Homo sapiens: one gene and its partners. The protein of the gene in region 1 purifies or fractionates together with the protein of each later gene. This does not show direct contact. Each region holds a gene or a part of one and is shown in the gene's direction. Other genes may lie near its edges.

Region 1 (7,856 bases):
GCTCCTGCCAAGGGCCCTGCACTTGGGCTGTGGGGACCCCCTGTGGGGATGGGGCCATCACAGGAGGCTGAGCACAGGGCGGGGTCTTGGCTGGAGGGGACCTTAGGCCACAGGTGCTAGTCTTCTGCAGCCACCCCCCAGGACCCCTGCCCGCTACCTCCTCTGCCCCACAGCTGACAGGCTTTGCCCTCCCCTGCCCCTCTGTGGCCACACACTCAGTTCTCTATACACTTTTATTATGGAAAACATCAAATACACACAAAAGCAGGGCATCTAGGACAGAGACCCTGTGTCCTGGTCCCCAGCCCCTCACAGTGACACCGCCAGGCTTTAGGCAAGATCAGTGGGGGAGGGGAGTTTCCCAGCAGGACGTGCACTTCCAGACCTGGTTCTGTGAAGAGGGGAACAGAAAGTGCTGAGGGTGACAGGGAAACCTCGAGAAGAGGGAGGTGTACTCACATCCTCTCTCGGGGTCCACAACTGAGCCCCCACACAGAGGACCCCACTGGTCTGCCTGAGCTGCTGGGTGGGCAAGTGAGGCACTGGCCTCGGGGGCACAGCGCTTGAAGGGACACCAGAAAAACAGTCATAAAGATAAACCGTAATGTGTTGTTTTATTTCTTATTTATTTATTTATTTATTTTTGAGATGGAGTCTCCCTCTATCGCCCAGGCTGGAGTGCAGTGGCGTGATCTCGGCTCACCACAACCTCCGCCTCCCGGGTTCAAGCAATTCTCTTGTCTCAGCTTCCCGAGTAGCTGGGACTACAGGCACGCGCCACCACGCCCAGCTAATTTTTGTATTTTTAGTAGAGATGGGGTTTCACCATGTCGGCCAGGCTGGTCTTGAACTCCTGACCTCGTGATCCCCCTGCCTCGGCCTCTCAAAGTGCTGGGATTACAGATGTGAGCCACTGCACCCAGCCAATGTGTTGTTTTAGTAAACCAAAACTATGCAAAGGACGCATGAGGATCCAAGCGACTCATTTAGGATGGCAGCTTCACTGCAAAAGGAGTCTCGATTCAGACCTCAAGACATGCTTCGTGGGTCTCACTCAGGAAGGAAGTGGAGGCAAGTCAGAATGTGGTGAGAAGAGAGGGTTTATTGAAAGTTGCTCCATTACAGAGCAGGGTGTCGTCAGAAAGCAAGAGGGGGAACACCCCAGCTTTAACTTTTTCTCATACAGGGGTCTCGTCTGTGTAAAGACTAAGCTAAACTGTGCCTAACATGTATTATTCTATTGATTTAAAGAAAACTGTCTGTCACGGGGTCTTGCTCTGTTGCAACCAGGCTGGAGTGCAGTAGCACGATCTCAGCTCATTGCAATCTCTGCCTCCCAGGCTCAGGTGCTCCTCCCGCCTTAGCCTCCTGAGTAGCTGGGATTACAGGCATGCACCCCCATGCGTGGCTGATTTTTTTTTTTTTTACTTTTTGTAAAGATGGGGTCTTGCTATGTTGCCCAGGCTGGTCTCAAACTTCTGGGCTCAAGCCAACCTCCCACCTTGGCCTCCCAAAGTGCTGGGATTAGAGGCCTGAGCCACCGCGTCCGGCCAAGGGTAGTTGTCTGGAAAGCATATATTGTTCTGGATACCAGGGCACTTGGACACTTTGCTGTCATAGAAGTGTGTCCACGCAGGCGTCACTGGCTGCTGCTTTAGCTGTAAACATCGTATGACCATGGGCTGTGGCTGGCAGGTATGTGCCTCATTGGTCTCAAGGTGGAGCTGAACGTAAACGGCTTTTCTCTGGCTCTCCCAGGCTCCTGCTTCCCTGACATCGCCTCACAGACTTCCCTTCAAAGCAGGGCTGTCCAATCTTTTGGCTTCCCCGGGCCGCATTGGAATAAGAAGAATTGCCTTGGGCCAAACATGAAATACACTAACACTCACGATAGCTGATGAGCAAAAAAAGGTCTCTGCGTAAATCTCATAATGTTTTAAGAAAGTTTACAAATTTGTGTTGGGCCACATTCAAAGCCCGCAGCCCGAGTGTTGGACAAGCTTGCTGCAGAGGCTCCCCTAGATAGGGCTGCAGGGGTGGCGTCCGGCAGCTCTAGCTGGAGAAGCAGGAGGAGGGGCAGGAAGGAATCCTGTTCGGAGCTCCTCGCGTCACACATACAGCCCAGCGGGGTGAAGTGGGAGGGGCTGGCGCTGCTGCAGGGGGCTAACCTTGGGGGTGAGGGGGCAGCCTCGGAGAGGAAGCTGCCCAGGAGCAGAGGCTGGGGGCGGAGGGCCCCGGGCAGTGCCCCCGTGCCCACAGCAGGACCCTGGCTGCCAGTTCTCCGCAGAGGGCCAGGTGGTCTGAAGCTGCCCAGCAGGGAGAGAACAGGCCTGGCCTGGACTGGAAACCTGCCATCTGGCCTCTCGAACCTGGGGACTCCGGGTGTCCTCGAAGAAGGGCCTGAGCAGCAGCAGAGGACCCCAGGCGACCGTGCCTGAGCCGGGCGCCGACGACGACTGAGCACCTGATATGTCCCCGGCACTCGCAGCCCCGCGGCCGGAGTCGCTGTGGGTGAGCGGTCGTCGAGCTTCACAGAGGCCGGGCTCTGTGCCAGGGCCCCGACAGGGCAGGAAGCAGATAGAGTCCCACAAGCACAAGCCCAGTGCGCAGAAAGGGTTACTTAAAAAATAAGTTCTGTGATAAAATCAAACAGGGTGAAGGGCTGGAAACAGGTCATGAGGGCGCAAACAGGTCGTGAGGGCGCAAACAGGTCGTGAGGGCGCAAACAGGTCGTGAGGGCGCAAACAGGTCGTGAGGGCGCAAACAGGTCGTGAGGGCGCAAACAGATCGTGAGGGCGCAAACAGGTCGTGAGGGCGCAAACAGGTCGTGAGGGTGCAAACAGGTCGTGAGGGCGCAAACAGGTCGTGAGGGTGCAAACAGGTCGTGAGGGTGCAGCTTTGGGGAGAGAGGGGCCCTGGGGGTGAGCGGGGAGCTAGGAGAGAAACAGCGCTCTGGAGGGGCCCGGGCAAGGCCTGCCTGAGTGGGAGGGGGCAGAGCACGAGGGCCCAGGCTCCAGGCTGGGTGGGACTGCCCTGAAGTGCCTGCGGAGACAGCCAAGGGGCAGATGGAGAGAGGTAGGGGGTGGGCTGGGGACAGCGTTTCCTGTACACAGGTGGAACCTGGTGGCAAGGGGCCCTTCCCAGAGACAGTCAGAGTCTCTAAATGTCCAGTTTCTTCCCCAAGTCCACACAGCCCAGAAGAATCCGCTGGGACCATGTGGCCCTGCCCAGTGGGGCTTCCCTTCCAGTGTGTGAGGAGCACAGGTGCCAGGCCACGTCAGGGAGGCCAGGCCTGGTGGGGACGGGGTGCCCCAGGCCACTGCTGGGGAGGAGTGATGCCCAGCAGAGGGGGCACGGTGGAGTTCATGGCTGGCCTGGTGGTGGGGGGGGTGGGGGAGCTCTGCAGGGCCCTGGCTCTGGTGGGCTGGGTAGGCCTGCTTGGGGCACCATCTGATCTGCCAGAGGTGGAAGGAGCACTCCTGGGAGATGCCGTGCCCTGCACCTCCAGTCCCTGCTTGACGGCGGCCGGGCTTGGACTGATCAGGTGCCGTGCCTTCTGCTGACCCCAGAGGCCAGACCCTGTGGCCAGAGTGAGGGATGGATGAAATCCCAAATCTGAGCCTCCTGCCCGAGGATGAGGCCCCTCTCCAATGAACATCATGGCCCATGGAGACTGGGCAGGGAACCCAAGGGCGCACACTGGGGACTGGGCCTGGAGGGACAGCCGGGGAAGCAGGAGGAAGGGCAGGAAGGACAGCAGGAGGAAGCAGGAAGAAAGGGACAGGAACCAGGCCCGGGATGACAGCAGAGAAGGACCAATGCCCAGCCAGGGCTTCCTCACGTGCCTCTGGGTAGAGAGCCCTGGTCTGGCTCAGGAGGCCCAGGCACTGGTCTCAGACCTGCCACCACCTGTGTGACGCTGGGCCAAGCGCTTCCCTTCCCTGGGCGTCCGTTTCCACCGCTGTAAAGTGGGGAGGGGTGAAACTGAAGCTCTCCCCAGCCTATCCCAGCCGTTGAGGAGGGAGAGGCTGTGGTCAGGGGCTGTGGGGCCCACGTTGAGGAGACGAGGCTCCTGCCCTCAGGGTGGACAGGGCCCAGGAAGGGGGTGCTCTGCACCATGGGGGCGCAGCCTGGGCCTACGGGCTCCCCCACCATGAGCTCAGAAGGAAGATGTCCGCTGAGGAGTTGGGGGCCAGGGAGAATATTCTAGACCAGATAGGGGTGGTCTGGGTAGGCTTCTGAGGGGGTGGGCTTGGAGGAGGGGCCGGTGGCCAAGTCGGGGGGAAGCAGGGGAGGAGCCAGCCTGCCTGCGTGTGCCTCTCACCTGTGTGCATTGGCGTGTGCATGTGTGTGTGCATGTGTGCCAGCGTGTGTGTGTGTATTGGAAGGCGCCCACGGAGCGTGTCTGCATGAACCAGGATGAGTGTGCGTGCTGCACCCTGTCTTGGGGCTGGGCATGAGGCGCTGGGGAGGGCGAGCTGACCGCAGACCCTGGGAGGGCTGGGCCCTGGGAAGGTTTCCGAGATGACAGGGCAGAAGTGGGCTGGGGAGGAGGAAGGCTCCGTGGGCGGGGCTGGAGCGTCTCTGGTTTTGCTGTCTGTCTCTCACGCTGTTTCCAGAACAAATGTGTGCCCTCAGCAAGGATGCTGGCTCTTCAGAGGTGTCAGCACAGGCAGCCGGCACCCCACTTCCCTCCCAGAAATCCCCCACGCCCTCTAGCTGGGGCTGGTGCAGGAGCAGTGGGGAACTCCTGTTACCCCTGACCTGCTGCCGTCAGTCAGCCGCCCGCCCCCCCACCTTAAGGAGGGGCAGAGTCAGGGACCAGCCCTGAGGGGTGGCTCACCCCAGCTTCACTTCCCCCAGCCCTTCTCAGACAGCCACTGTGCAGGCTTTGGCAGCGGGGGTCACACACTCCACCCGGGAGGCCAAAGCTGCCTGCAGGTCAGTGCCGCCCACTGCCCTAGGGGCCTCCCAGCGGGGCAGGGGCATGGTGGGGGTCTCAGAGTGGGGTGAGGCTGTGATGGGGTCTCAGAGCAGGGTGAGGCTATGATGGGGTCTCAGAGTGGGGTGAGGCTGTGACGGGGGTTCTCAGAGCGAGGTGAGGCTGTGACAGGGTCTCAGAGCGGGGTGAGGCTGTGATGGGGGTCTCAGAGCAGGGTGAGGCTGTGATGGGGTCTCAGAGTGGGGTGAGGCTGTGATGGGTGTCTCAGAGTGGGGTGAGGCTGTGATGGGTGTCTCAGAGTGGGGTGAGGCTGTGATGGGGGTCTCAGAGTGGGGTGAGGCTCTGATGGGGTCTCAGAGTGGGGTGAGGCTGTGATGGGTTCTCAGAGCAGGGTGAGGCTGTGATGGGTTCTCAGAGCAGGGTGAGGCTGTGATGGGGTCTCAGAGTGGGGTGAGGCTGTGATGGGGTCTCAGAGTGGGGTGAGGCTGTGATGGGGGTCTCAGAGTGGGGTGAGGCTGTGACGGGGTCTCAGAGCGGGGTGAGGCTGTGATGGGGGTCTCAGAGCGGGGTGAGGCTGTGATGGGGGTCTCAGAGCGGGGTGAGGCTGTGATGGGGTCTCAGAGCGGGGTGAGGCTGTGACGGGGTCTCAGAGTGGGGTGAGGCTGTGATGGGGGTCTCAGAGTGGGGTGAGGCTGTGATGGGGGTCTCAGAGCGGGGTGAGGCTGTGATGGGGTCTCAGAGCGGGGTGAGGCTGTGACGGGGTCTCAGAGTGGGGTGAGGCTGTGACGGGGTCTCAGAGTGGGGTGAGGCTCTGATGGGGTCTCAGAGTGGGGTGAGGCTGTGATGGGGTCTCAGAGTGGGGTGAGGCTGTGATGGGGAGTCTCAGTGAGGTGAGGCTGTGTTGGGGTCTCAGGTGGGCTGAGGCTGTTGGGGTCTCAGGGGTGGCTGAGGCTGATGAAGACTTGGAGCCTGTGTCTGGGTAGCAGCTTGTTGGAGTGTGGGATGTGACATTTAAAAACAAGAATGAAGAATACCCCGTGCTGTGGCCCCGAGGTGAGCAGCTACTTTGGTGAACTCGTGTCACTCACAGCCCCATCCTGGGTCCTGGGGTGTGGTGTGCTGTGTGGGGCCCAGGCCCAGTGGGGTCACAGGTACGGGGGACTCTGGTGCCTGGGCCACAGGGATCTGCACCTCACTGCGTGCCCCCACGTCTTCAGCAGTGGTTGGGGCCTGTGGTCTCAATCCCAGGCCAGCCAGGCACTCTGGGGTCTGGGCGGGTCCCGGGTCCAGACAGGGGGAAGGGCTGGGGAGGGGCTCTGGTGTGGCTGGATCGCCCGTCTATGGCCAGGTTTCTCTCCTGGATCACTCAGTGCAGAATCAAAGGGCACTTTTCTGCTTTTGTGTGCAGAAGCCGAGGGTGACCTTGTCATCAGAAGGGGAAGCGGGGCCTCAGAGGCGTGCTGCTGGCTCCAATCCCCAAAGCCTCCTGGGCAGGAAGTGGAAGGGCCCCATCCCCACGGTCCCCGGCAGCGGGAGCTCCCTGAGGCTGATGGTGCTGGTGTCTGTCGAGGAAGACAGGCCTGAGGAGCTGAGGCGGGAGGCCAGCTACGGTCCACGGCCTGGACACAGATTCCTGTGCGGGACTGGGGCAGTAGGTGGGCATCTGTGCTGGCCATGTTAGCTCCCAGGGGCCCCATGCCATCTGGGCTAAAGCCTGGGCCTTGATTTCCTGAACTTTTCTGGGAGGCACTCCACGGGCGAGACAAGGACCCATGAACAGGGCACTTCTTCGAAGCCTACGTGCACCTCGAAACTCTTGCAACATTTGCATTTTTCTCCCTAATAGTTCAGTGTTTGTTTTATTATAAACAGGAAAATTTAAATGTTGTAGTTAGAGTTTTTTTCTTCTTCTTAGAGATGGGGTTTCACTCTGTCTCCTAAGGCTGGAGTGCAGTGGTGGGATCATAGCTCACTTCAGCCTCAACCTCCTGGGCTCAAGCCGTCTTCCTGCCTCAGCCTCCCGAGTAGCACGCATCACCAGCCCAGCTAATTTTCTGTCTTTTTTTTTTTTTTTTTTTTTTTTTTTGTAGAGACGGGGTCTCCCTGTGATGCCCAGGTTGTTCTTAAACTTCTGGCCTCAAGTCATCCTCCTGTCTCAGCCTCCCAAAGTGTTGGGATTACAGGCATGAGCCACCGTGCCTGCCTGCAGTTAAACATTCCCCCACAAAATACTGGGCCACACCGAGGCTAGTATGAAAGTTGCAGCCCTGGGTATGTGTGACCTGAGAGCCCCTTGGCAGCCATGGGGAGCGATGGGGGAAGCTGGGGCAATGGGAAGGGGTCTAGGCACACGAGCCCTCGGGTCCTCACCTCCCACGAGGCAGGGTCCCAGGCTGCCTCTACTCAAGGTGGGGCAGCAAAAGAATCGCCCTCTAGCTGTGCAGACCCCCTCCCCCTCCAGGTCTGCACACCGCCCAAGGCTGGCCCTGGACTTCTGGTGGATTCAAGTACTCAGGTGGGGAGAGTAGGAGGCCAGTCGCACGGAGCCCTCCCCAACGCACAGTGCCTGCCCAGCTCAGGTGCCTCTGAGGTGTAGATTCTGAGCAGGTTCTGGGATCTCCTGGCCCCCAGCGGGGGCTGCCACAGGAGTATAGGCCCAACAGGAAGGGAAGATCCCAGCGATTGGTTCCAGTGGGTTCTGGGGATGTCCTCGGAGCCTGGCCTGGCTCAGGGTCCCTCCAAAAGTCCCTGGAACGAGGGTGAAGTGTTGCTCATGAATCAGAGAGAAAGCAAGCAGGACCCTCAAGAAGGGAGGAGAGAGACCACTGGGCGTGCAGCACTTTGCACTCGGGGGAAGGGCTCCTGAAACTTGGAAGTCAGCAAATATCTGCTGTACTTCACCAGAGGTGGGATC
Region 2 (7,045 bases), about 110 Mb from region 1:
AAACACAACATAACAAATCCTGTGGGATGCAGCAAAAGCAGTTGTAAGAGGAAAAGGGCATAGCTATAAACACCTACATCAGAGAAGTAGAAAGATCTCAAATAGCCAACCTGACAGTACACCTGAAGTAGTGAGAAAAATGAGAAAAATAAAATGCTAAAATTAGTACAAAAATATCATAAAGATTAGAGAAGAAATTTTAAAAATAGAAACAAAAAATACAAAAAGTCAATGGAACAAAGAGCTGGATTTTTTAGAAAAAAATCAAAACTGACAAGCTTTAACTAGACTAAGGAAAAGAAAAAGAAAAAATCATAGATGAAAAATGAGACATTGCAAGTGATAACACAGAAATATGAAGGATTGTAAGAGATTACTAAAAACACCTATATAAAAACAAGTTGGAAAATCTAGGAGAAGTGATAAATTTCTGGACACATAACAAATTCCCAAGATAGAATGATAAACAAAAAACCGGAACAGATCAATAATGAGTAATATAATTAAAGCAGTAATAAAAAGTCTTCCGTCAAACAAAAACACAAGAATCATGGTTTTACTGCTGAATTCTACCAAACATTTTTAAAAGAGCTAATACCAATTTTACTCAAAATATTCCCCAAAAAGTGAAGAGAAAGGAAGTCTTCGAAACTTGTTCTATGAGGACAGCATGATCCTGGTACAAAAACCAGACCAGGAAACAACACAAAAAGAAAGCCACAGGCATTTTAAATATCCCTGATAAACACAGATGCAAAAAAATCCTCAGCAAAATACTTGAAAATTGCACTTGACAACACAATAAAAAGATGATCTGCCATGATCAAGTGGGATTCATCCCAGGAATATGAGGATGATTCAATAAAACACAAATAAATAAATGTACGACATCACATTCAGCGAATCAGGAACAAAAACCATATAATCATTTCAGTAGATGCTGAAAAAAATAAAAATCAACATTCCTTCATGGCAAAAACTGAACAACATGAGTACAGAAGGAACATAGCGCAATAAAGGCCATATATGATAAACCCACAGCTAACATCATAATCAATGGGGAAAGGTTAAAACTCTTCCTCTAAGGCCTGGAACGAGTGTGGCTACTTTTACACCACTTTTATTCATCATAGTACTGGAAGTCCTAGGTAGCGCAATTAGACAAGAGAATGCAATAAAAGGCATCCAAATTGGAAAAAAGGAAGTCAAACTGTCTCTGTTTGCAGGTGACATGATCATATATATATACATAGAGAAAGAGAGAACCCTAAAGATTCCACAAAATCACCTACAGGAAATAATTTAGTCAAGTTGCAAGATACAATATCAGCACACCCATGCACCAATAGTGAAATACCTAAGAAGGAAATCAAGAAAGCTATTTCATTACCAAAAAAATTATATCTAGGGATAAACTTAACCAAAAAGACAAAAGATCCCACAATGGAAACTCTAAAACACAGATGAAAGCTATTAAAGCAGACACAAGTAAATGGAAAGATATCCCATGTCCATGCACTAGAAGAATATTGTTAAAATGTCTATATCACCCAATGTGATCTAGAGAGTCAATGCAATCCATGTTAAATTACAAAAGACATTCTTCATAGAAATAGGAAAAAAAAATCCTAAAATTCACATGGAAACGCAAAATACCTCAGATAGACAAAAGAATCTGGAATAAAAAGAAAAGCTGGAGGCATCACACCTGACTTCAAAACATACTACAAATCTGTAGTAAGCATGGTAATACCAAAACAGCATAATACTATCAAAAAAAGGGGCGGGGGAGAAACAGAAACGAAGGAATGACAGACATAGACAAGTGAAACAGAATAGAGAAATCAGAAATAAATTCACACATTTATGGCGTACTCATTTTTAACAAAGGCACCAAGAACACACATTCGGGAAGGACAATCTCTTCAATAAACTGCTAGGATAACTCAACACCCACATGTGCAGGAATACATCTAGGCCGTTATCTTACCATATACAAAAATCTGCTCAAAATAAAGATTTAAATGTAGGACCTGAAACTATAAAACTACTAGAGAAGAAAACATAGGATAAATGCTTCATGAAACTGGTTAGGACAAGGAATTTTCAAATAGACATCAAAAGCACAAGCAACAAAAGCAAAGATGTAATTACATTAAACTTGTCAAAAGCACAAGCAACAAAAGCAAAGATGTAATTACATAAAACTTAAAAGCTTCTGCAAAGCACAGGAAGAAATCAGTAGAACGAAGAAACAACCCAGAGAATGGAAGAAAGTATTTGCAAACTATGCATCAGCCAAGGGGCTAATACACAAAATATATAAATAACTACTCAAAAGCAAAAATACAAATAATTTGATTAAAAAAAAATCTACCCCAAATCTTTGTCTCCCACCATTATTTTCCCACCTTCTTTTCCCGACCGCCTTTGGCCTCCTCCCCCTCGCCACCCGTTTTCTTCCTCCATCTACCCCAAAACTTTTTCCCCACCATTTTTCCCTACCGTCATTTCGCAAAGCCTTCTCTGCTCTCTCACTCACCACCCTTTTCCCCATCCACTTACCCACTTTCCCCACTGTTTTTTCCCACCGTCTTTTCCCTTTCTCCCTGGCCACCTTCTTTTCCCCCATCCCACTCTCATCACCCTCTTTTGCTCCTTCATCTAAGCAAAAACATTTTCTCCCGTCTTTTCCCAAACCCTTCTCCTCACTCCTGCTGCTCACCACTTTTTCGCCCTTCATCTACCCGAAAACTGTTTTCCTCATCGTCTTTTCCCCCGCTCCTCCTTGCCACCCTCTTTCCCTTCTCTACCCAAAAACATTTCCCCATAGTCTTTTCGCAAAGCCTTCTCCCCACTCCTGCTCACCTCCCCTTTTCCCCCTCCATCCACCCCCCAGAATATTCCCTACTGTCTTTTCACAGTCTTCCCCCCTTCCCACTCGTCCTCTTCTTTGCCCTATCCTGCTTGCCACTCTCTTTTTTGCCTTCCATCTACCCCAAACTATTTTCCCATTTTTTCCCCAACTCTCTTTCCCTGCTCCCTCTCGTCACCCTCTTTCCTCCTCCTCGTTACCCTCTTTCCCCCCACCATCTACCCAAACACTTTTTACCCACTGTCTTTTCTTTCTCCACCGTCTTTCTTTCCTGCCCACTATCTTTTTGCAAAACCTTGTCTTCCTCCCGCTGGCTACCCTTTTCCCTTCCCCCACCTGTTACCCTCTTTTCCCCCTCTATCTACCCAAAACCTTTTCTCCCCACTGTCTTTTCACAAAACCTTCTCTCTCTACTGCTCAACGCTGTTTCTCCCCCCCACCACCCTCTCTTTCCTCCTCCCTTGCCACCCTCTTTTCCTCCTCCATCTACCCATAAACATTTTACCCACCATCTTTCTGCAAAACCTTCCCTCCCTGCCGCTCCCCACCCCGTTTTTCTCCCTCCATCTACCCAAAAACTTTTTTTCCCACTATCTTTTCCCCACCGCCTTTTTGCAACGCGCTCTCCTGCTCACTATCCTCTCTTCCCTTTGGCACTAACCACCCTCTTTACCCCCTCCATCTATCCCAAAACTCTTTTCCTCCTCTTACCGCTTCCGCCGCACTGCCGTCTCGGTCGCGGTTACCACCAGTCGCAGCGAGGCGAGCCACGGTGTAGCGGCTCCAGCCTCCAGCGTACGGCTGGTGATTACCCATTCCTGGTCCTCTAAGCCGGGCACTGAGCAGCTCCACAGGAAAATACGGGAACGTGGAAGAGCCTGACTTCCCTTCAGCAGCAGGCGTATACCGCGGTTATATACAGGAGGATTCCTGACTGCATGTTCTGATTGGATGAGAAAAACCCTCCAGGGTTACTTGGATTGGACTTTATTATCATGTTCTGATTGGATGAGAGCCAGTCTTAAGACAACCAATCACAGCATGAAAATAAAGTCCAATCAGAGTAGGCCTAGAGGTTTTTCTCTCATCCAATCAGAACATGTAGTCTGGGAACCACATGTGCGTAACCTCAGTACGTAAAGCATGCGGAGGTGGCGTCAGGTCATTTCAGGCTCTTAAGTGTGGGCGTTTGGTAACCGGCATGGCTGCTACCTGTTTCTGGCTGGAGCCTCGGACACTGGCTCACTGCAGTTGGTGGTGTCCACAGAGCGGTAGGAGGGCAACTAGTAGCGGGAGCTTCTCCTGCCAGGCAGGAAGACGAGTAGAAGGGAGCAGCACCGACGCATGCTGGAGGCTGGAGCCTGAGCCCCTGGGGCTCGCCTTGCTGTGTTTGGTGGTGACGTGGGACACTGCAGCTCGGCCAGAGTGGTAGAAATGTCCTGGTGTAGGTGAGTTATCCGGGGATGTACTGCCCGCCTGTGGGGGCAGGGGTTGGGTGTCCTATTGGGGCTCACTGCCCGAGGCTGCACTGCCTGTGTCAGGGGGCTGGTTGGGGGCACTCTCCGAGGTTGCATTGCTGGCGGTGGAGGGGGGCGGTTTTGGCTGGCTGTCCGGGGCTACACTGCCCGTGGTGGCGGGGGTGGTGGGGGGGAGGCAGGTTGTGTGCACTAACGTGTACTGCCGGTGGCGGGGGAGGGGTTAGGGGCACTATTTTCTGCTGCACTGCCCGGGGCAGGGAGTGGTTTGGGTGGTTATTTGGAGCTACAATGCTGGCAGCGGGGGGTGGTTTAGGAGTGTTGTCGGGTGCTGCACTGCCCTTACTCAGGGTGCGCTATCAGGAGCTGCGCTACCTGTGGTGGGGTGGGGGCGGCGATTTTGGGGCACTGTCTTGTGCAGCAACACCTGTGGCTGGGTCAGGTTGTGGGCACTATCGGGTGCTACACTGCCTGTGGAAGGGGTGGTTGGGGGGGGGTATTGGGGTTACACTGCCTGCAACTGGCACAGGGTGTGTTGGGTGTGCTGTCCGGGGGCTACACTGCCGGCGGCAGGGGTCAGGTTAGGGTTGCTATGGGGGCTATACTGCCAGTGGTGTTGGTCGGCTGCAGAGGTGGTGGGGACAGCAACAGCCATGGTCTCCTTGCTCCTTCGGGTAACTCTTCTCTTTTCCAGACTCCAGAGTTCCTGCTCGTGCAATCTTGAGCAGGGCAGGGCCCCCACACCCACTGCGGTTCTCCGGCCTGCACCTCCCGCCCACACCCCATGCTCTGTGTTGGGGAGACCACCTGGGACTACCGGGTGGGGATTAGTGGGCATCGCGGGGGACTGTGGGAACAGGGCACTGTGGGTGGAGGTGTCAGGAACGGGAACCAGCAGTTGAGTGGGGAGGGCTGGCTGGGTCTGAGTTTCTCCTACTCCTGCTCCCCAAGGAGTGCAGCCCTGGTGGGCCCAGCAATTTCTGGCCAGTTGCACCTGGATGGGGGTGGTTTCAGCATAGGCACTCACACCCGCCCCAGTTCCTGGCCACCTTTTGCCAGAAAGAGAGGCTGGACTTCGGTGGGTGGGTGTGAGTGCCTTAGCTGAAGCTGGTCCCTGCCACCCAGTGGCCAGCATGACAAGGTGAGGCTCTAACGTTACCACTCCCTGCATCCCATTCTAGGCTTTTCTGGCTTTGCCGGTCTAGCTGCTCCAAGCCAGGCTGGAGGAGGAGGAGAAGGAATCACCTGTGGTACGCTGGAGCCTGCATGTGGCGTGACTCTGCAGCTCGCCTCGTGTGACTGATGGCAGCCACGGAGACTGCAGCTCGACAGGAGTGGTAGGAGGGTGCCCGCGGGGGCAAGGTGGTAGGAACCTTGTAGGGTGGGCTGCTGCATTGACGGCGACAGCAACTGTATTGGCATTGGTGCTAGTGGTGGTAGTGGCAGAAAGTCTGGGGACTGGGAAGGGGGAGTAGGAGCACTGCAGGGCCCAGTCCGACCTGGGGTGGGGAGGAACCTGCTGGTGCTGTACCATGGGCCTCGGTGGCAGTGGTGGAGGTGCACTTAGGGAAAGGAGTCCTCCCCCTTCTCTTGCAATCTCTGGAGGGTGGCCTCCTTCTGAGCCAGGCATGAGTGGCAGCATTGTCTCATTCTTAACAAAATTTAGGGGGTGACTGTGTGTGTGTGTGTGTGTGGCTTTTTTTTTTTTTTTTTTTTTTTTTTTTGAGACAGAGTCTCGCTCTTTTGCCCAGGCTGGAGTGCAGTGGTGCGATCTCGGCTCACTGCAAGCTCTGCTTCCTGGGTTCACCCCATCCTCCTGCCTCAGCCTCCCTAGTAGCTGGGACTACAGGCGCCTGCCACCACGCCCAGCCAATTTTATTTTTGTATTTTTAGTAGAGATGGGGTTTCACAGTGTTGGCCAGGATGGTCTAGATCACCTGACCTCATGATCCGCCCACCTTGGCCTCCCAAAGTGCTAGGATTATAGGCGTGAGCCACCACTCCCGGTCATTTTTTCCTTCTTTTTTGTTGTGATGGTCTTGGACTTTTTCAAATTTTGTGAATTGGGGAGGGGATAAAAGGTGTCATAATAGGCCTTCTAATTCCTGCACCTGTTCTTTTTGCTTTTTCTAGTCTGTGTATTCTTCTCATCTTCTTGTTCCTCTTCATTTTCTTTTGCTGCTGCTTCTATTTCATGTTTCTATTCTTGTTTCTCCTCCTCTTTTTGTTTTCTTTATGCCAAGCAATGGCCTTAACAAACAACAAGCCAAAATTGTCACTGTGTTGTATTTTTAAAATAACTGGTCCTTTACTATGTTTTAGGGATGAGGAAAAAAATCAGTTGTATAATTAGTTACTTGAATAGCTATGCTTTCATGATTGTGTTAAACCACTTATGCCTAGTGTTCCATTATTGGAATGGTAAGCATGAGGGAGTTAATTACATCCTACTGCTCAAGGTCATTAGAAGGTTTGATTTTTCACTCGTGCAAAAATTCAAAAAATTGCAGCCTCTGGCATAAATGGGCTAATGCGTTATAAGTAGTTATTCAGAGAATCAAAAAATGAAGCATCACATAAAAATATTGGTGGCAAACAGCCATTTCATCTCTCTCACATATTTGGAGCTATGCAGGAGTCACGGGGTAAGTTCTAATTTATGAGATTATTAAGTGAACTGTATTGCCTTCATTTT
Region 3 (6,705 bases), on another chromosome or scaffold:
AGCAGCTTATGCTGACCAAGAGGCAGCAGATGAATTCTCAGACACCGTTAAGAAAATCATTGAAGAGAAAGGATATCTGCCTGAACAGGTGTTTAATGCAGATTAAGGTACCCTACTCTGGAAAAAAAAAGCCACAAAGGACATTAATAGTAAGGAAGACCAACCTGGGCAACATGGGAAACTCTGTCTCTACAAAAAGTACAAAAATTAGCTGGGTGTGGTGGCACACACCTGTTGTTCCTGCTACTCAGGAGTCTGAGGTGGGAGGATTGCTTGAGCCTGGAAGATTGAGGCTGCAGTTAGCCATGAGTGCACCACTGAACTGTAGCCTGGGCAACAGAATAAGACCCTATTTCAGTTTTTAAAAAGGAAAAAAAAAAATAGGAAGAGAAGCAAGTACCAACATTGAAGGCAAGAAGAGACAGGCTAACTCTACTCTTTTGTGCAAAAAAACCCAGCACTTTGGGAGGCAGAGGTGGGACGATTACCAGAGCCCAGGAGTTTGAGTCAAGTTTGTCATCAGAACTGCCCTTGTCTATAAAGCTGTTAACCTCCAGCCTCGAAGAGCAAAGATAAACACCAGCTGCCAGTGTTTAGGTTGTGCAATAAGAAGGCTTAGACAACAAGAACCCTTTTTCTGGATTGGTTCCATCAATGCTTTGTCCCTGAAGTCAGGAAGTACCTTGCCAGTAAGAGACTACCTTTTAAAGTTCTTTTGATGTTGGACAATACTCTGGCCACCCAGAGCCCCATGAGTTCAGCACCAAAGGCAAATTAAAAAGTCTATTTGCGGCTGGGCCCAGTGGCTCATGCCTGTAATCCCAGCACTTGGGAGGCCGAGGTCGGGGGATCACCTGAAGTTGGGAGTTCCAGACCAGCCTGACCAACACGGAGAAACCCAGTCTCTACTAAAAATACAAAATTCGCCGGGCGTGGTGGCACATGCCTGTAATCCCAGCTAATCAGGAGGCTGAGGCAGGAGAATTGCTTGAACCTGGGAGGTGGAGGTTGCAGTGAGCTGAGATCGTGCCATTGCATTCCAGCCTAGGCAACAAGAGTGAAATTCTGTCTCAAAAAAAAAAAAAAAAAAAAAAGGTGGTCTATTTGCCTCCAAACACAATATTTAAATCAGCTACTACATCAGGGGGTGATAAGGACCTTTAAGGTTCATTACACACAGTACTCTCTAGAAAACAGATTGTCAAAGCTATGGAAGAGAACTGCAATAAAGAGAACATCATGAAAGTTTAGGAGGATTATATCGTTGAAGATGCCATTGTCGTTATAGAAATAGCTGTGAAGACCATCAAGCCTGAAACAATAAATTCCTGCTGGATAAAACTGTGTCCAGATGTACACAAGACTTCACAGGGTTTATGACAGATAATCAAAATCATGAAAGAGATTGTGGATATGGCAAAAAAAGGTGAGGGGTAAAGGGTTTTAAGATATGATCTTGGATAAATTCAAGAGCTAATAGACACCAAACCAGAGGAATGAACAGAAGATAACTTGATGGAGATGAGTGCCAGATGATGAGGAAAAACACGTAGAAGAGGCAGTGCCAGAAAACAGATCTGGCAGAAGGTTCTAATTATTTAGAGCTGCTTTTGACTTATTTTACAACATGGACCCTTCTAAGATATGTGCCCTGAAACTAAAGCAAAGAAAAAAGATTGGTATTGTATAGAAACATTTTTAGAGAAATGAAAAAGCAACAAAATCAGACAGAAATTATATTTCCATAAAGTTACACCAAGTGTGCCTGCCTGTTCTACCTCCCCTTCCACCCTCTTCTGCCTCTGCCATCCTGAGACAGCAAGACCAACCTCTCCTCTTCCTCTTCCTCCTCCTCCTCAGCCTACTCAGTGTGAAGACAAGGATGAAGACCTTTATGAGTATCCATTTCCACTTAATGAATACTAAATATATTTTTGCTTCTTTATGATTTTCTTTTTCTTCTTTTTTGCCCCCCTGCTTCCTGGAAAGATTTTCTTAATAACATTTTCTTTTCTCTAGTTTACTTTATTGTAAGAATACAATATATAATATTACATTCAAAATATGTGTTAACTGAATATATTATTAGTAAGGCTTCCAGTCAACAGTAGGCTATTAATAGTTAAGTTTTAGGGAGTCAAAAGGTATATGCTGATTTTTGATGGTGTCAGGGGTCAGTGCCCCTCATCCTGGGGTTGTTCAAGGGTCAGCTGTACTAAGTGCTACTGTGCATTAGGCATTAAATTATGCAAATCAACTCATTTAACTCTCACAACAACTTTTTGAGATTGGTATTATTGTTATCTTAATTTTAGAGATGAAAAAAGTAAGGCACCGTTTTTTCTAAGTTTACTAAAATAACTTGCCCAAGAGCACACAGCTAGCAAGTGGCAGACCCAAGCACTCTGGCTTCAGAGCCTGCTCTTTAAACCTGTATACCATACTGCCTGCTAGAATCAAGTTGAATAGTCTGTAAAGTCTCAAGTAGGTTTAGTTTATGCACAGACAATTCAGTGCATAAGGAGGAGGAAAAGGCAGGGCAGGGGAGGGAAAGCTAAGCACTGGTCTGTGTTTACTTTTTTTTTGTTTGAGACAGAGTTTCGCTCTTATTGCCCAGGCTGGAGTGCAGTGGTGCGATCTAGGCTCACTGCAACCTCCGCATCCCGGGTTCAAGCAATTCTCCTGCCTCAGCCTCCTCAGTAATGGGATTACAGGCACACGCTACCCCACCCGACTAATTTTTTAAAAAGTATTTTTAGTAGAGACAGGGTTTCACCATGTTGGCCAGACTGGTCTCGAGCTCCTGACCTCAGGTGATCTACCCTCTGCCTCCCAAAGTGCTGGGATTACAGGCGCGAGCCACCATGCCGGGCCTGTGTTTACATTTATTTAACCCTCACAACAACCTACAGATTGGTAAACCTGTGAAATAGCAGTTGTTATTTTATAGAAGGGGAAATTGAAGTACAGAAAAGTTACATAATTTGCCAGTAGTTACAACACTAGTAAGTGGAGGAGCCAAGACTTGAATGTTTTTTACTATACTGTACAAGAGAGATACAAAGACCCCAGTATATGTGCATCTACAATATACACACATGCACAGGCACACTCACATTTCTGCACCTACCATCCTATAGTGCTTGCTGTTTATACAAGAGATCCAACAGTTTCATGGCTCTGGGTCTCAAACCTACAATAATAGAGTTGCCAGATTGAGCAAATAAAAATAACGGATGGCCAGGCACAGTGGCTCATGCCTTTAACCCCAGCACTTTGGGAAGCCAAGGCCAGTGGATCACCTGGGGTCAGGAGTTTGAGACCAGCCTGGCCAACATAGTGAAACCCCGTCTCTACTAAAAATACAAAAATTAGCCAGATATGGTGGCGCACACCCATAGTCCCAGCTACTTGGGAGGCTGAGACAGGAGAATCGCTTGAACTCAGGAGGTGGAGGTTGCAGGGAGCTGAGATCATACCACTGTGGTCCAGGCTGGGTGACAGAGCGAGGCTCCATCTCAAAAAATAATAATAATAAAATAAAATAAAGGATGCAGGCCAGGCACCTTGGCTCACACACCTGTATTCCCAGTACTTTGGGAGGCAGAGGTGGCACAATTACTTGAGCCCAGGAGTTTGAGACCAGCCTTAGCAACATACAACCTCATCTCTAAAAAAGAAAAAATAAATAATAATAATAAATTAAAGATGCCCAGTTAAATTTGAAGTTTAGATAAGCACCAAATAATTTTAAATATGTCTATGCAATATTTGGGACACACTTAAGCTTAAAAATGTTTTTGGTGTTTATCTGAAATTCAAATGTAACTGGGCATCCTGTATTTTATCTGGCAACCCTACTAAGGAGAAAAATTCCTATTTGTCTTTCAAGTTCTAAGTCAAATGACTATTTCTACATAAAGTCTTCAGTGATTTCTCTGGGTAGTTTGTTTTTCCCTTCTGTTCTTTTATAACCTCACCTGCATCTATCCATTATAGTATTTATTACTCTGATTGTAGGCGCCTGATCCTTCCCATTCAGACCTTTTATCTTTTGTGGGGAAAGCGTTTTATGTTCATCTCTGAATTCCCAACCTTGGAGATGTTGAATGATTGAAATGGTAATTGAATAAACATTTACTGAGAGCCAGTAGGTTTAAGAGGAGGAATGAAGGAGAACCAGCATTTATTAATTGCCTTCTATATGCTAAATATAGTGCTGATTGCTTACAATATTTAATGCCCCTTAGGCCTTATTAATAAAATGGACGGGCAGTCTTTCGCTGCAGGAAGATCACATTCTCCTGAGGCCTATAACATTTGGCATAAATAACTGATGCCATTATAGTCTCTGTATCTCCTTTCTGAGAAAGCTGAACCTGGGCCTAGCTGGCGTAGAACTCCTGTTTCCATAGAAACAAGAGGGTCTGTAAAAGTCAAGGGAGACAGGAAGAGCAGTTTGCACTTCCGGCTTACGTCGGAGACGCGTACAACCCGGAAGTTGGCGCAGCGCGGTTGCCAATGGTCGCTCCCTGAGAGGATGCCGCTCGTGGTGTTTTGCGGGCTGCCGTACAGCGGCAAGAGCCGGCGTGCTGAAGAGTTGCGCGTGGCGCTGGCTGCCGAGGGCCGCGCGGTGTACGTGGTGGACGACGCAGCTGTCCTGGGCGCAGAGGACCCAGCGGTGTACGGCGATTCTGCCCGTGAGAAGGCATTGCGTGGAGCTCTGCGAGCCTCCGTGGAACGGCGCCTGAGTCGCCACGACGTGGTCATCCTGGACTCGCTTAACTACATCAAAGGTTTCCGTTACGAGCTCTACTGCCTGGCACGGGCGGCGCGCACCCCGCTCTGCCTGGTCTACTGCGTACGGCCCGGCGGCCCGATCGCGGGACCTCAGGTGGCGGGCGCGAACGAGAACCCTGGCCGGAACGTCAGTGTGAGTTGGCGGCCACGCGCTGAGGAGGACGGGAGAGCCCAGGCGGCGGGCAGCAGCGTCCTCAGGGAACTGCATACTGCGGACTCTGTAGTAAATGGAAGTGCCCAGGCCGACGTACCCAAGGAACTGGAGCGAGAAGAATCCGGGGCTGCGGAGTCTCCAGCTCTTGTGACTCCGGATTCAGAGAAATCTGCAAAGCATGGGTCCGGTGCCTTTTACTCTCCCGAACTCCTGGAGGCCCTAACGCTGCGCTTTGAGGCTCCCGATTCTCGGAATCGCTGGGACCGGCCTTTATTCACTTTGGTGGGCCTAGAGGAGCCGTTGCCCCTGGCGGGGATCCGCTCTGCCCTGTTTGAGAACCGGGCCCCACCACCCCATCAGTCTACGCAGTCCCAGCCCCTCGCCTCCGGCAGCTTTCTGCACCAGTTGGACCAGGTCACGAGTCAAGTACTGGCCGGATTGATGGAAGCGCAGAAGAGCGCTGTCCCCGGGGACTTGCTCACGCTTCCTGGTACCACAGAGCACTTGCGGTTTACCCGGCCCTTGACCATGGCAGAACTGAGTCGCCTTCGTCGCCAGTTTATTTCGTACACTAAAATGCATCCCAACAATGAGAACTTGCCGCAACTGGCCAACATGTTTCTTCAGTATTTGAGCCAGAGCCTGCACTGACCAGAGGAGGTAGGGGGGAAGCCATGGCTTCTGATCTCCACTCCACTTTATTTCTCTGGGAAAAATAGGCTGCAGGTCTCCAGAGCATATCGATGCAGTACTGTACTAGAGCTGTTGTGACTGATTCACTCAAACTTTCCTGCATACCCCTGTGCCAGGCCTTGGGTTTACAGCATAAGTTCAGACTAAAGAGAATGGAGAACTATTGTGGTGCAACCTGGCAAATCCCTCAGAGGACAGAGCTAAGGTGGACAGGGATTACCTAGATTGGATCCTACTTGGGCTATCACAGAGCATTGACCATTGGCTTCCCTCATCTGAGGCGTGGGAGAGCAGACTGGATAGATGAGAATTGTTTTAAAACAATTGTGAACAGAAACTGAAGATGGTACAGTTCTACATCTGCACCTGCCCTTTTTTCATACCACAAAAGTATTTTTTGAGTACTGTACTGACTTTTTGCTAGTTTCTATTCTGGGACCGAGTTCACAGATAAATCCATTGGTTTGTATCCTTGAGAAACTTTGTTTTTGTGGAAGTAAGAAAGTTATCTACTAGATTATTTCCTCTAATAAAATCTTTTAAAATAGTCTACTGGAATCTCTTTCACTTAATGTTCCCTGTGTAACTTCATGTAACATTTTAGGTATACTTGTCATTGTTCTGCCTTTAAGTGAAGTAGTATTTTGATAGTTCTGAGAGAGTAGATGTTTTGAGCTACTCTACAGTAATTATATTATGACAATTTCCGTAACTGTTTTGCTTCATTCTGCATTTCAAGGCAAATATCATTGTAAGCTTGTCTTTCATTCTTCATTGATTTCATTGAACAAATGGTAGGTACCTACTTTAACAGTGGCTGTGATTTTCAAAGACCAATTAGATACAGTGTTTTTGCTCTTGAGATATGTGGTGAGAAGCCGGGTGTGGTGGCTCATACTTGTAATCCCAGCACTTTGGGAGTCCAAAATCGAGGTCAGGAGTTCGAGACCAGCCTGGCCAACGTGGCAAAACCTCGTCTCTATTAACAGTACAAAAATTAGTTGGGCGTGATGGTGTGCCTGTAATCCCAGCTACTCTGGAGGCTGAGGCACGAGAAT

What was found. Proteins that work in one complex are often made in the same cells at the same time.
Region 2: the proteins of GPR35 (region 1) and POTEE purify together in Homo sapiens (affinity purification with mass spectrometry; 3 studies listed by BioGRID and IntAct, with this or other methods). This does not show direct contact.
Region 3: the proteins of GPR35 (region 1) and KTI12 purify together in Homo sapiens (affinity purification with mass spectrometry; 3 studies listed by BioGRID and IntAct, with this or other methods). This does not show direct contact.

What each region holds. Positions count from the first base shown.
Region 1 is NC_000002.12:240,620,628-240,628,483, forward strand, and holds the start of GPR35 (G-protein coupled receptor 35), read left to right. Parts: upstream 1-4,852; 5' UTR 4,853-4,941; intron 4,942-7,856. UniProt on the Homo sapiens protein: G-protein coupled receptor that binds to several ligands including the tryptophan metabolite kynurenic acid (KYNA), lysophosphatidic acid (LPA) or 5-hydroxyindoleacetic acid (5-HIAA) with high affinity, leading to rapid and transient activation of numerous intracellular signaling pathways.
Region 2 is NC_000002.12:131,205,497-131,212,541, forward strand, and holds the start of POTEE (POTE ankyrin domain family member E), read left to right. Parts: upstream 1-4,039; 5' UTR 4,040-4,323; intron 4,324-5,531; 5' UTR 5,532-5,687; intron 5,688-7,045.
Region 3 is NC_000001.11:52,031,597-52,038,301, reverse strand, and holds KTI12 (protein KTI12 homolog), read left to right. Parts: upstream 1-4,491; 5' UTR 4,492-4,540; coding exon 4,541-5,605; 3' UTR 5,606-6,199; downstream 6,200-6,705.